Regions from separate parts of the Homo sapiens genome. Here region 1 is linked to region 2. Evidence: fine-mapped expression QTL. Tissue or cell type: monocytes. Region 2 holds a variant in brackets; the other region holds the start of a gene. All regions are shown on one strand. Distances are between the middles of the regions.

Evidence for each region. PIP is the estimated chance that this variant, and not a neighbour inherited with it, causes the effect.
Region 1: LINC00664 starts here. The variant in region 2 is fine-mapped to the expression of LINC00664 in monocytes (BLUEPRINT, PIP 0.95).

Annotation. Positions count from the first base shown.
Region 1 is chr19:21,482,185-21,484,870 of GRCh38, forward strand. LINC00664 (long intergenic non-protein coding RNA 664) reads left to right here and starts at 1,531. Exons shown (of 11, transcript NR_037194.1): 1 at 1,531-1,822.
Region 2 is chr19:21,567,903-21,570,588 of GRCh38, forward strand. It overlaps LOC124904670 (a long non-coding RNA gene), which reads right to left and starts at 1,354. Exons shown (of 2, transcript XR_007067182.1): 1 at 1-1,354. It overlaps LOC101929007 (a long non-coding RNA gene), which reads right to left. Exons shown (of 4, transcript XR_007067176.1): 4 at 2,000-2,686. The variant A/G (reference allele first, on the strand shown) is at 1,305.

The sequences.
Region 1 (2,686 bases), 86 kb before region 2:
GTTGCAATTTTTTTTTTAATCTCTTGTCTTTCTGAGAGTTTCGTGGCAGAGAGTTTGGTTCATTTAAGTTCATTCTAAATAGACATTTAGGACGTTAACTTCTGGCCTCATGGACTCTGAGGTTACAAGTCCCCTGGTCTATCACAGGACCATACACATAAGAAATAAAAAAAAATCGGCTGGGCGTGGTGGCTCACGCCTGTAATCCCAACACTTTGGGAGACTGAGGCGGCTGGATCACCTGAGGTCAGGAGTTTGAGACCAGCCTGGCCAACATGGCGAAACCCCGTGTCTACTAACAATAAAAAATTAGCCGGGCGAGGTGGTGCGTGCCTGTAATACCAGTTCCTCAGGAGGTTGAGGTACTAGAATCGCTTGAACCCGGGAGGCGGAGATGGCAGTGAGCCAAGATTGCCCCACTGCACTCTAGCCTGGGTGACAAAGCAAGACTCCGTCTCAAAAAAAAAAAAAAAAGACTCCAATCAAAAAGCAAATAAGTAAATAAACAAACATAACGTTTATAATAAGTAATTGTGTTACAAAGAAATATAGTTATGTCCCCTAAACCAAGGTCTCACAGAAAAGGAAGCCTGTGCACAGACTGGGTCAACTGTGTCTTCTCTACTGTCCCTACCTCAAAGTTGGCTTCTTCCTTGTTGCCTAGAAAATCGTCGCCCTGACTGGGTATGATTGTTCTTTGATCAGTATATGCATATATATGTATTTTTTCATTCTTTCCTGGCTGATTATTGCGTGGGTGGTTGTTTGGCGCCTCCTAGCGGCCGGCTAGCAGTACAGGCCTCCTCCAGAGGCCGCTTGGGCTGACGGCACGGCTTGTGGCCCACAGGGGCGGCCACCTTTCTAGAGTTCTCTTGTCCTCTGGAGCTCCAGTGGCAGCTGCCGAGGGAGGGACAGCCCCCGCTGTGAGCTGAGCAGAGCTCGGGAGTCCTGCAGACTTCAGCAGAACAGTCCCGATGGTGCCAGAGCTCTGGCGCGTCCCTTGTGAGTCATAGCTCTGGCGTGTAGGGCTGTGGAGGGGAGGCTGTTACCGTGCTCCCGGCATGAGCTTAGTGTGGGGCTGCCCGGGCTGGTCCCCAGCTCACCGCAGCTGCGGAGGCCCGACCCTCGGAACCCACCAGGCATGATGCAGGGGGCCGGGGACACCCCCCAGGCCCGGTTGCGGGCCCATGTGTGTCCTGGCCGTTTGAGGCTCTGGCCGATTTCTTTTCCCAAGTCCCCATGGAGAATCAGGGACCGTCCTGTGCCATCTTCCGAGAGCCTGGAAGGGTCCGCCCGTGGGCTTTCCGAGCGCCGAAGGGGCCACATGCTGCTCTGAGGGTGCCGCAGGTTCGTGGGGCTCCCTTGCTTGGTGTCCACCCCCTCTGGTTTCCTCCTCTTCCCACCCTGCGGGTGGCTCGTCGCCCTGGCTGGGACGCCGCTGTGGGAGCGTGGTGGGATGGCTGAGGCGCGGGCGTCAGAGGGTGTGGCCCGGCAGCCCCCGTTTCAGGGGTGGCTGTGTGGTCTGGAAGTGGCGGTCCAGGTCCTGGGCCTCTCCCACTCAGCAGCGGGGAGGAGGGGTCGGCGGGGAGTAGGGGCCGGTCGCCCCCCCTTGAGCTCTTCCCCGTCTTAGTGGACCAGCAGACAGTGTGGGAGAGCGCTGGGAAGGAAGGTTGGCGGAGTTATACTCCAGACGGACGGGCTCAGGCCCCGCGCGCCACACTCGGCCACACTTGGCGCGTAGTGTGGACCCGGTGGGCCTCTGCCCTCGCCACCGGCTGGCTTCTCTGTCCAGCCGCTGGGTCGACCAGATGTCAGCCCCAAGGTTAGGGTTTGGCCTCCAGCTTGAGATGTTTAAGACGGACTAGATAGCTCTCGCCCGCGGCAGTACCGCTTAGGTCCAGCAGAGGGTGCGATTACGGCTCACGCGCCCTCCACCTGCCCGGACTCACCCAGGTCATCCTCCCTTTTCTTTTTTCTTTTCTTTTCTCTCTTCTCTTCTCTTCTCTTCTCTTCTCTTCTCTTCTCTTCTCTTCTCTTCTCTTCTCTTCTCTTCTCTTCTCTTTCTCTTTCTGTCTGTTTTTCTTTCTTTGAGTTTTCGCTCTTGTTGCCCAGGCTGGGGTGCAATGGGGCAATCTCGGCTTACTGCAACCTCCACCTCCCGAGTTCAAGCGATTCTCCCGCCTCAGCCTCCTGAGTAGCTGGGATTACAGGCGTGCGCCACCACACCCAGCTAATTTTGTATTTGTAGTAGAGATGGGGTCTCCATGTTGGTCAGGCTGGTCTGGAACTCCCGACCTCAGGTGATTCGTCCACCTTGGCCTCCCAAAGCACTGGGATTACAGGTGTGAGCCACCATGCCCGGCCCCATCCTCCTGTTTCTGCCTCCAGAGTAGCTGAGGCTCGGGATCTTTCTGGGTTTTTTTTTCTTTTTTTCTAGCCCCACTTTGAGTTTGTTTCCACGGTACATTGAGTTACTATTGTTTTGTTTTGTTTTGTTTTCTCTCTTAAGCACCTTCCTGCACACTGAAGTTGCTGTTTTAAATTTCTTCTTTCATACGTGTGTGTGTGTGTGTGTGTGTGTGTATGTTTTTTTAAATGAGGTCTTCTTAGTCACCCAGGCTGAAGTGCAGGTGTGTGATCACAGCTCACTGCAGCCTGGACCTCCTTGGGCTCAGGGGATCCTCCG
Region 2 (2,686 bases):
GGGACCATCACTGGGTCACTGTGCAGACAGGACGCCCAGTGTGGGGAAAAGCAAGAGAGATCAGATTGTTACTGTGTCTGTGTAGAAAGTAGACAGACATAGGAGACTCCATTTTGTTTTGTACTAAGACAAATTCTTCTGCCTTGAGATGCTGTTAATCTATAATCTTACCCCCAACCCTGTGCTCTCTGGAACATGTGCTGTGTCAAACTCAGGGTTAAATGGATTAAGGGTTGTGCAAGATGTGCTTTGTTAAACAGATGCTTGAAGGCAGCACGCTCCTTAAGAGTCATCACCACTCCCTAATCTCAAGTACTCAGGGACACAAAAACTGCGGAAGGCCGCAGGGACCTCTGCCTAGGAAAGCCAGGTATTGTCCAAGGTTTCTCCCCATGTGATAGTCTGAAATATGGCCTCGTGGGAAGGGAAAGACCTGACCGCCCCCCAGCCCGACACCCATGAAGGGTCTGTGCTGAGGAGGATTAGTATAAGAGGAAGGCATGCCTCTTGCAGTTGAGACAAGAGGAAGGCATCTGTCTCCTCCCTGTCCCTGGGCAATGGAATGTCTCGGTATAAAACCTGATTGTACGTTCCATCGACTGAGATAGGAAAAAACCACCTTAGGGCTGGAGGTGGGACATGTGGGCAGCAATACTGCTTTGTAAAGCATTGAGATGTTTATGTGTATGCACATCTAAAAGCACAGCACTTGATTCTTTACCTTGTCTATGATGCAAAGACCTTTGTTCATGTGTTTGTCTGCTGACCCTCTCCCCACTATTGTCTTGTGACCCTGACACATCCCCCTCTTGGAGAAACACCCATGAATGATCAATAACTACTAAGGGAACTCAGAGGCTGGTGGAATCCTCCATATGCTGAACGCTGGTTCCCTGGGTCCCCTTATTTCTTTCTCTATACTTTGTCTCTGTGTCTTTCTCTTTTCCAAGTCTCTCCTTCCACCTAACGAGAAACACCCACAGGTGTGGAGGGGCAACCCACACCTTCAGCCCAGGGTCCTGCTGTCAGCGCAGCCACCATGCTATGGCTGAAGAGGACTGAGGCTGAGTTGGCCAAGGAGAACTCGGGGCGCAGACTGTGGAGCTGACTGACGGGAGACCCGAGTCCCACCACAGCCACTTGCCACCAGTTCCAATCAACTCCTTCCCTTTTCTCAGGATGTCGGACCCGGCACTCTCACCATTTCTAGGCTTCCAGGGGGTCCTGGCATCTTAGCTGTGGATCTCCCAATACCTGCAGGTCACAAAGTCACGGAGACTGGGCCTCTGAAGACTAGACGTAGA[A/G]CTCCAGCTGCAGCCGGAGACAAAGGCCCCCATATTCCGGAAGCTGTCTTGCCCGCTCCAGCTGCGTGGCTGATTGGAGGGTTTCCAGCCCAGTGTTGCTGATTGGATAACGCTTAAATCCCCGCCTCCTCACATCGTGATTGACAGAAGATGTGACCAAACGCTAGGCTGAATGAAGAAAGAGTGACTGCCTAAGCTGCCGCCCGCTCAGAAAGGGCTTCGTCCCTGAGCTGAGCCAGGCCCACCCTAGAGGGTGTTTGCATGTAATCTTGTGTATAAGGTTATATGCATTTATAAATATTATACTGTATGGCTATTCACAAATGAAAAGAATATAATAATAATGATTTTGAAATTTCAGGTTTTATAACCTTCCTGGCTTTGAGAAGGCAGCATGAGATTTTTTGTCTTTGTTTTTGTTTTTTGAGACGGAGTCGCTCTGTTGACCAGGCTGGAGTGCAGTGACGCGATCTCGGCTGACTGAAAGCTCCGCCTCCCGAGTTCACGCCATTCTCCTGCTTCAGTCCCCTAAGTAGCTGGGACTACAGGCGCCTGCCACCATGCCTGGCTAATTTTTTGTATTTTTCGTAGAGACACGTTTCACCGTGTTAGCCAGGATGGCTCGATCTCCTGACCTCGTGATACGCCCACCTCGGCCTCCCAAAGTGTTGAGATTACAAGCGTGAGACACTGCATCCGTCTGTTGTAACAATTTAATTAAAGCAATATATCCAAAATATTATTTTAATATGTGAGCAATGTATAATTATGAATGAGATATATATTTATATATAACATAATTATGTATCTATATATTGCATTATGCTATGTATTTTTATCCATATTATATATAGATATTTTTATCTATATGTTGTATATTTTTATATTTATGGAACTAAATCTTTGAAACTAACTCTGCATTTTACCTTTCTTGCAAATTGCAGCTCAGACCAGCCACATTCCAGGCTCCCAGGAGTCACACATGGTCAATACCTGTCACATTGAAGTGCAGCTCTGTTGTCAGGTCTGTGAAAGGCCTGAATATCCCTTTTCTTCCTGTTAGGAATAACGCTCAAAATCATAAGGAAATTGAACACTCGAACAAAGGATTCCTAGCAAAGCAATTTTAGTTCTGCACAGAGGGGTGCGTTCTTGTCCAGTCACCATGAGAGCACACCTGAACAAAGGGGCACAAGAGCCTTTATTCCTGACACAAGTCCTGCCCCTGTACCCTTTCCCCATTGGCCAGGGTCGGGTCGTACAATCTGAACTAATCCTGGTTGGCTAAACATTTGATTTTTTTAGATAAGGTGGGCATGCAAAAGAATGCAGAGAGGAAGGGGAAGGGGTGTCTGCATTGAGCTAGAAAGTTAGTCCTCTTT